Regions from separate parts of the Homo sapiens genome. Here region 2 is linked to region 1. The links come from fine-mapping of genetic effects on gene expression. Tissue or cell type: lung. Region 1 holds a variant in brackets; the other region holds the start of a gene. All regions are shown on one strand. Distances are between the middles of the regions.

Region 1 (2,755 bases):
AATAAGTATTTGGTGCTCTGATCAGACCATTAGGTTTTAGGTGCAGCCTTGATTTTCCGAATTTAGGCCTATTGATCTCAGAATTTCCACTCACAGCCTGACCATTAACCCAGCATGCAGCTTCCATTAAAGGATTCTTCTGTCATCAGGGAACTTGAAATCCCAGAGGTAGATGCAGTCACTGTGATAGCTTTATACACGAGTGAAGTCGTTTGTGTCCAAGTCTAACAAGTAACTTGGTTTTTGCTTTTATTCACATTATCCCATCTTGCCTATTGATAGGGACTGTTCAACAAGACTCTACATCTAAAGTTGGAAGGGACCCCAAAATACCATCAAGTGTGTTCCCCACCCCCAACCTTGGGCAGGGCCATCATTTATTCCCAACTAAAGATAATTTGTTTCTAGTGAACCCCTAAAGAAGATTCCAGGTACTTCCTAGGAAGTTCTTTATGTTTACTGAAAGAACTTTTGCCACCCCCATCCCCGCCATCTGGGGTTATTTTGTCTCCTAATCTCAGTGGATGTGGAGTCCCTGGAGGCCTATGTGAGCATCCTTCACACTGGTAAACCTTTACTCAGTTCTCTTTTCTCTCTGCTCTTTAGGCCAAGTCATTGAGCTATACCTCTGGGACTCAATCACTTTCATGCTAGCCCTGACCTATTCTAAGTGTTTCAGGTTTGGGTGGGGGTGAGTGGCCCTGTGGATGGGTATAATGATCTTTCTCAAAAGCTTTGGAGCTTTGCCAGTGATGACTTAGGCATGTGTATTTTGTGCTATTAGAGTTATGCTTTGAGTATAGGCTGTCTTTCACATTTGCCTTTTGACTGATCTGTGCGTCAATCAAAAAGCTCTGTGCTGCAAAATCTTAGAAAGTTACAGAATTGAAAGAACCAGTGACCCTCAGTTGGGCAGAAGACATCAAAATTCGAGCTGTGTGTTTTTAGTTCCTGCCACTCATACCAGCAAATATTTGTAGATGCCCTGGATTTGGCGCTGCTGGGGACACACACATATGAGCTCCTGCATAGGATGAGCGTCCCTAAGAGCCCGGGGATGCAGGGGTGGGGTTGGGATGTCATGAAGCATGTTGCCGCCAGGCGGTGGCGTAGAGCTGCCACTATACCTCACGGGTCCCTTCACATCACACTTGAAAATTTACGTAATGTGGAAAACCCTCTGGGATGTTTATCTCAACCGCTTGTGCTGCTTTTTCAGATGTTTTTTTCAGTTTAAAACTCACAGAGGAAAGGGCCCATCAGAGGTCCTGGGAAAGGCATAGAAAGCTACCAGAAGTGATTTATATATGTATTT[A/T]AAAATAAAACAGCAGCCCCTCTCTAGACTTAGCAGGCAGTGTTACAGTTGCTTGCACATAGCTAAGCTTTGCGGGAAGGGGAGGTGGAATGACTAAGAATTTACATAGTTGGCAGAGAAAACCAACTCCCTAAGCCAAAGAAAGTAACTTTTGAACCATATGCTTTGGTTTCTATCACACATAATTTTATTTCACAACTTTGGAGCACTAGGCTACATAAAGACTTGGATCCCATTCTCAAAAATCTGAGAGAGAAGACAAGATGAGTGCACACAAACTGTATTATAAAGTACAGGACATAATGTGAATGTTTATAAAGGTGTAAGGTGTGTGTGTGTGTGTTCAAGGGAGAGATCACTTGCAGTCCTAAATTCTATACTATATAGGATTTTCACTTCTATGTGAAAAATACTCTTTCCTTAACAAGTCATGGATGAACGTTTTGAAAAGTATGGTCTATAGACCACGCACCTGCATAGGAATCTCCTGTAGTAATGTTAAAATGCAGATTCCAGGGCCCCCACTGACTCAGAATGTCTGAGGGTAGAATCCTGAGAATCTGCATTTTAACAGCCTCCCAGGTGTGATCTCTGGCACAATAAAGATTAAGAGCCGCTGACGTAAACAATAAATGTTAAAATAGGAAGAAAATTTAGTGATTATTAGATCCAAGCAAAGAAAATTGGTGTGCATTTTTAAAGGGAGCAATGAGGCTTGCTATTTTTCAAACTGTTCATTTGGAACACCAAAGCGAGAGACGAAGAAACATAGCTTTAAAACAATGAGGAGCTAACTCCAAAGACTACGTGGAAATTAAGTCCTTTATTTTTGAGGTTTTCTCTAAATGATTACAACAAGAAGTACATGCTCATTTTAGAACATTTTGGAAATACAGGAAGGAATAAAATATTGTTGTACTTCTATGCATATATTTTAGAAGCCAAGAGGTACATGGGGTGTATAGTGAGAACATCTCCCTCCACCCTGCCATGTTTGTTCTTTCTCAAGCCTGCAAATGACACCATTCTAAACACGCTATTCTTTCCCTTGCTTTCTTTTTCTTTCTTAGGAGTTTGAGTTTTATTTATGTGCATTTGAAGTTTTTATGTAAGGGAGTGATATGATCCAATTTACTTTTTTTTTTTTTTTTTTTTTTTTGAGAGACAGAGTCTCACTCTGTCACCCAGGCTGGAGTGCAGTAGCATGATCTGCCTCCCAGGTTCAAGCAATTCTCCTGCCTCAGCTTCCCAAGTAGCTGGGACTACAGGCATGTGCCACAACACCCAGCTAATTTTCGTATTTTTAGTAGAGATGGGGTTTCACTATATGCTGGCCTGCCTGGTCTCAAACTCCTGGCTTCAGGTGATCTGCCCACCTCGGCTTCTCAAAGTGTTGGGATTACAGGCATAAGCCACTGCAGCCGGCCCCCAATTTTCATT
Region 2 (2,613 bases), 53 kb after region 1:
TGTCTTGGAAGGGGGAGGTTGTCTCCTGGGGCTCAGGACAGCAGCTGGGCTGGGGAACAGGGGCAGGGAGAGGATGCGTCTGGAAAATAATCTGGGGGCTGAAAAATGTGCTGGCATCTTAGCTGAGAGGTATGTCTGTCCACATCTGGGGTTTCCGCCGAGGTGGAGTCTGCCCTCACCAAGGCAATGGTTCTGGGACAAACTTCAAGGTTCGTTCAGGTCCACTCCCCACAGATCTCAGTTCTTTAGGTCTGGGGGTAGCAGTGGGAGGTGATAGGAAGAACCTGTTTCCTGACCCAGGACAGGCCACCCAAGTCTATGTCTCCTCTCTGCTCAAGCAAGTCCCAGCATCTTTGGACAGCTCCCCTCTTCAAAAGCAGCTGACCACTGTCCCTAGCCCAGGATCCCAGGGCAGGAAAAGCAACAAGGGCAAGAGAGAGGGGCTGCGGTGGTCCACCTGTGGCCTGCTCTCTGGTGGCACCAAGGAGCCCAGGTGTTCTTGCGTGTCCCAGTATGCCTTCTCTTGGGGCCTGCTGTCAGTGCAGGATGAGAATGGGAGGTCAGCAGAGTGGGTGAGTGGGGGCGCCTGGCTGCTTCCAGGGGGGCACTGAGCCTTCTGCCTGTTTGCTACAGAGGCTGGTAGGGGACGGGGGGTAGGTTCCATCTGGGAGGTCACTGGGAAGGACAAGCTGCCACCGCAGGGCCCCAGGAGCCATGAATCAAAGGCTGTGCTGGGGGCTGATGAGAAAGGGAGAGGAGCCGGGTCTCCGCACCCTGGCCCTCTCAGCTCCTCCCAGGGTCTTCTCAGGGTCTTTGAGCAGGTGGATTGTCTGGGGAGGCACTGCGGGAGAGGGGTCTGGGTCAGACTGTGGGGCAGAGGGAGTCCGGGAGGATGCCGGGCTGTGCCAGGGCCGCTGACACGGTTTAGAAGGAGTTGGGAAAGTGCTGGGGACAAAGGAGAAGCGGAGCAGAAGTCAGCGCAGGGCGGCCGCGGGGCAGCGGGTGCCCGGGCAGAGGGACCCGGGTGGCGAGGAAGAGGGCGCCTCGCTGGGGTTGGGGGGAATCCTCTGTAGTCCAAGCCCTCACCTGGGCCTTCCAGCCCAGGGGCACCAAGTCTCCAGTCCCTACTCCCCCCGAGGCTTTCGGATGCCCCCGCCAGCGGTCTCGGAGTTTCGTTCAAGTCCCGGGGCCCTCCACCAGGACACTGCGCCTGCAGCCCGCAGAGCCACCCGCCTCCCCCGGTGTCGTCGGGGTCCCTGGATCTCACCTGGGGGCGGGGGCCGGCCCTGCCCACCATCCCGAGCAGCAGCAGCGCAAGGCGCAGCGGGCCGGGGGCGCCGGCCATGGCGGGGAGTTCAGGACTGGGCCATCGCTGCCACCTGCGGAACCGCGTGCGGAGACTGATCCCGGGCTGGTGGCGGGCGGTGGGGGAGGAGCCGGCGAGGGGCCGCCCTGCCCGCGGGAGGGGCCTGGCAGGGTCCCGGTTCTTCCGGCCGCCAGAGACCCCTGGGCCCGCCCCGCCGCACCCCTCTGCCGGTCCCGGGCCAGGAGATAGCGGGCACTGCTCTCCGAGCGAGCGCGGCTGGGAATCAGGAAGCGCAGGAGGCGGCCACCAGCTCTGAGCGCCGACAGTGCGCCTGGCCGGCTTTCAGCGACAAGCCAGGCCCTCCTCCCACCCTGGCACCCCGGACCTCCTCCCGGGTCTCCCAGCTGAGGAAAGCTACAGCAACCCCCGCCCATTCAGGGTCCCTCAAAGGAAACTGAGGCCTGAGGAATGGACGGGACTTGTCCAAGGTCACACGGCTTGGCAGGCCACTCCTGGAAAGTATCCTCAGAGCCAGGGGTGACTAATAAGAACTTTTTTTTCCCAGGATTACCCCTTCCCAGGTCCTCTTCTCATTCCCATGTTCTGTCCTGAAGGCAGGCCCAGGATAGTCAAGGTTGGGGGTGGGGAGACTGACAAATGGATCCACAGAACTCTGACAGTCGCAAGGGTCTAGAGGTTCCCCTCTACCTGGAAACTTCAGCATTGCAGGGCAGGGAGGGATGAGGCTGGGGTCTGCCTTTCTGGAAGCTTCCCTGCCACCTCTTGCAGCTCCAGCCTCCTGCTCTTGTAACCTGTGTATGTGTGATAATGTGTGTCCATGGTTGTTCCTGCCTTCTTTATCTCTCTCCCTGCTTCGCTTCTTGGGGACTCTGGATCTTTCCTGTCTGTTTCCACTCCCACCCCTAAACACTGCAGGGCCCTCAGGTTCCCTTCTTACACCCAACAAGTGGAAAGAGAATGCTAAGAGGGCACTGACTGTATCTTCCCTAATGCTCTTGAGAAGTGGGGATGGGAAAAGAGGATCCCCCACCAAAGAACCTTGATGCCACTCTTAGGAAAGATGAGTTGTGGCAGAGCCCAGCCTCGGACCTGCCGTGGGGCATGTCGACTAAAGGGACAGGAAGTTTGTGAAAGTAGCTACTCCTGGGGAGAGAACTGAACTTCTCAAAGTCCTGAGGAAGGCTGGACCTGCCTGAGCCCAGGGAAGGAGACAGCCAGTGGGAGGGGCCCCTGGCTTCCATTCACCAGGAGAGACTCTCCTCTCCAGCAAGCTCTGGTTCCACCAC

The links. PIP is the estimated chance that this variant, and not a neighbour inherited with it, causes the effect.
Region 2: it holds the start of GLP1R, and the variant in region 1 is fine-mapped to the expression of GLP1R in lung (GTEx, PIP above 0.99).

Annotation. Positions count from the first base shown.
Region 1 is chr6:39,100,812-39,103,566 of GRCh38, reverse strand. No RefSeq gene overlaps it. Among named protein-coding and RNA genes, the nearest start is that of SAYSD1, 13 kb to the left of the region's middle. The variant A/T (reference allele first, on the strand shown) is at 1,316.
Region 2 is chr6:39,047,573-39,050,185 of GRCh38, reverse strand. It overlaps GLP1R (glucagon like peptide 1 receptor), which reads right to left and starts at 1,405. Exons shown (of 13, transcript NM_002062.5): 1 at 1,268-1,405. The coding sequence starts at 1,345. RefSeq lists an enhancer at 221-721.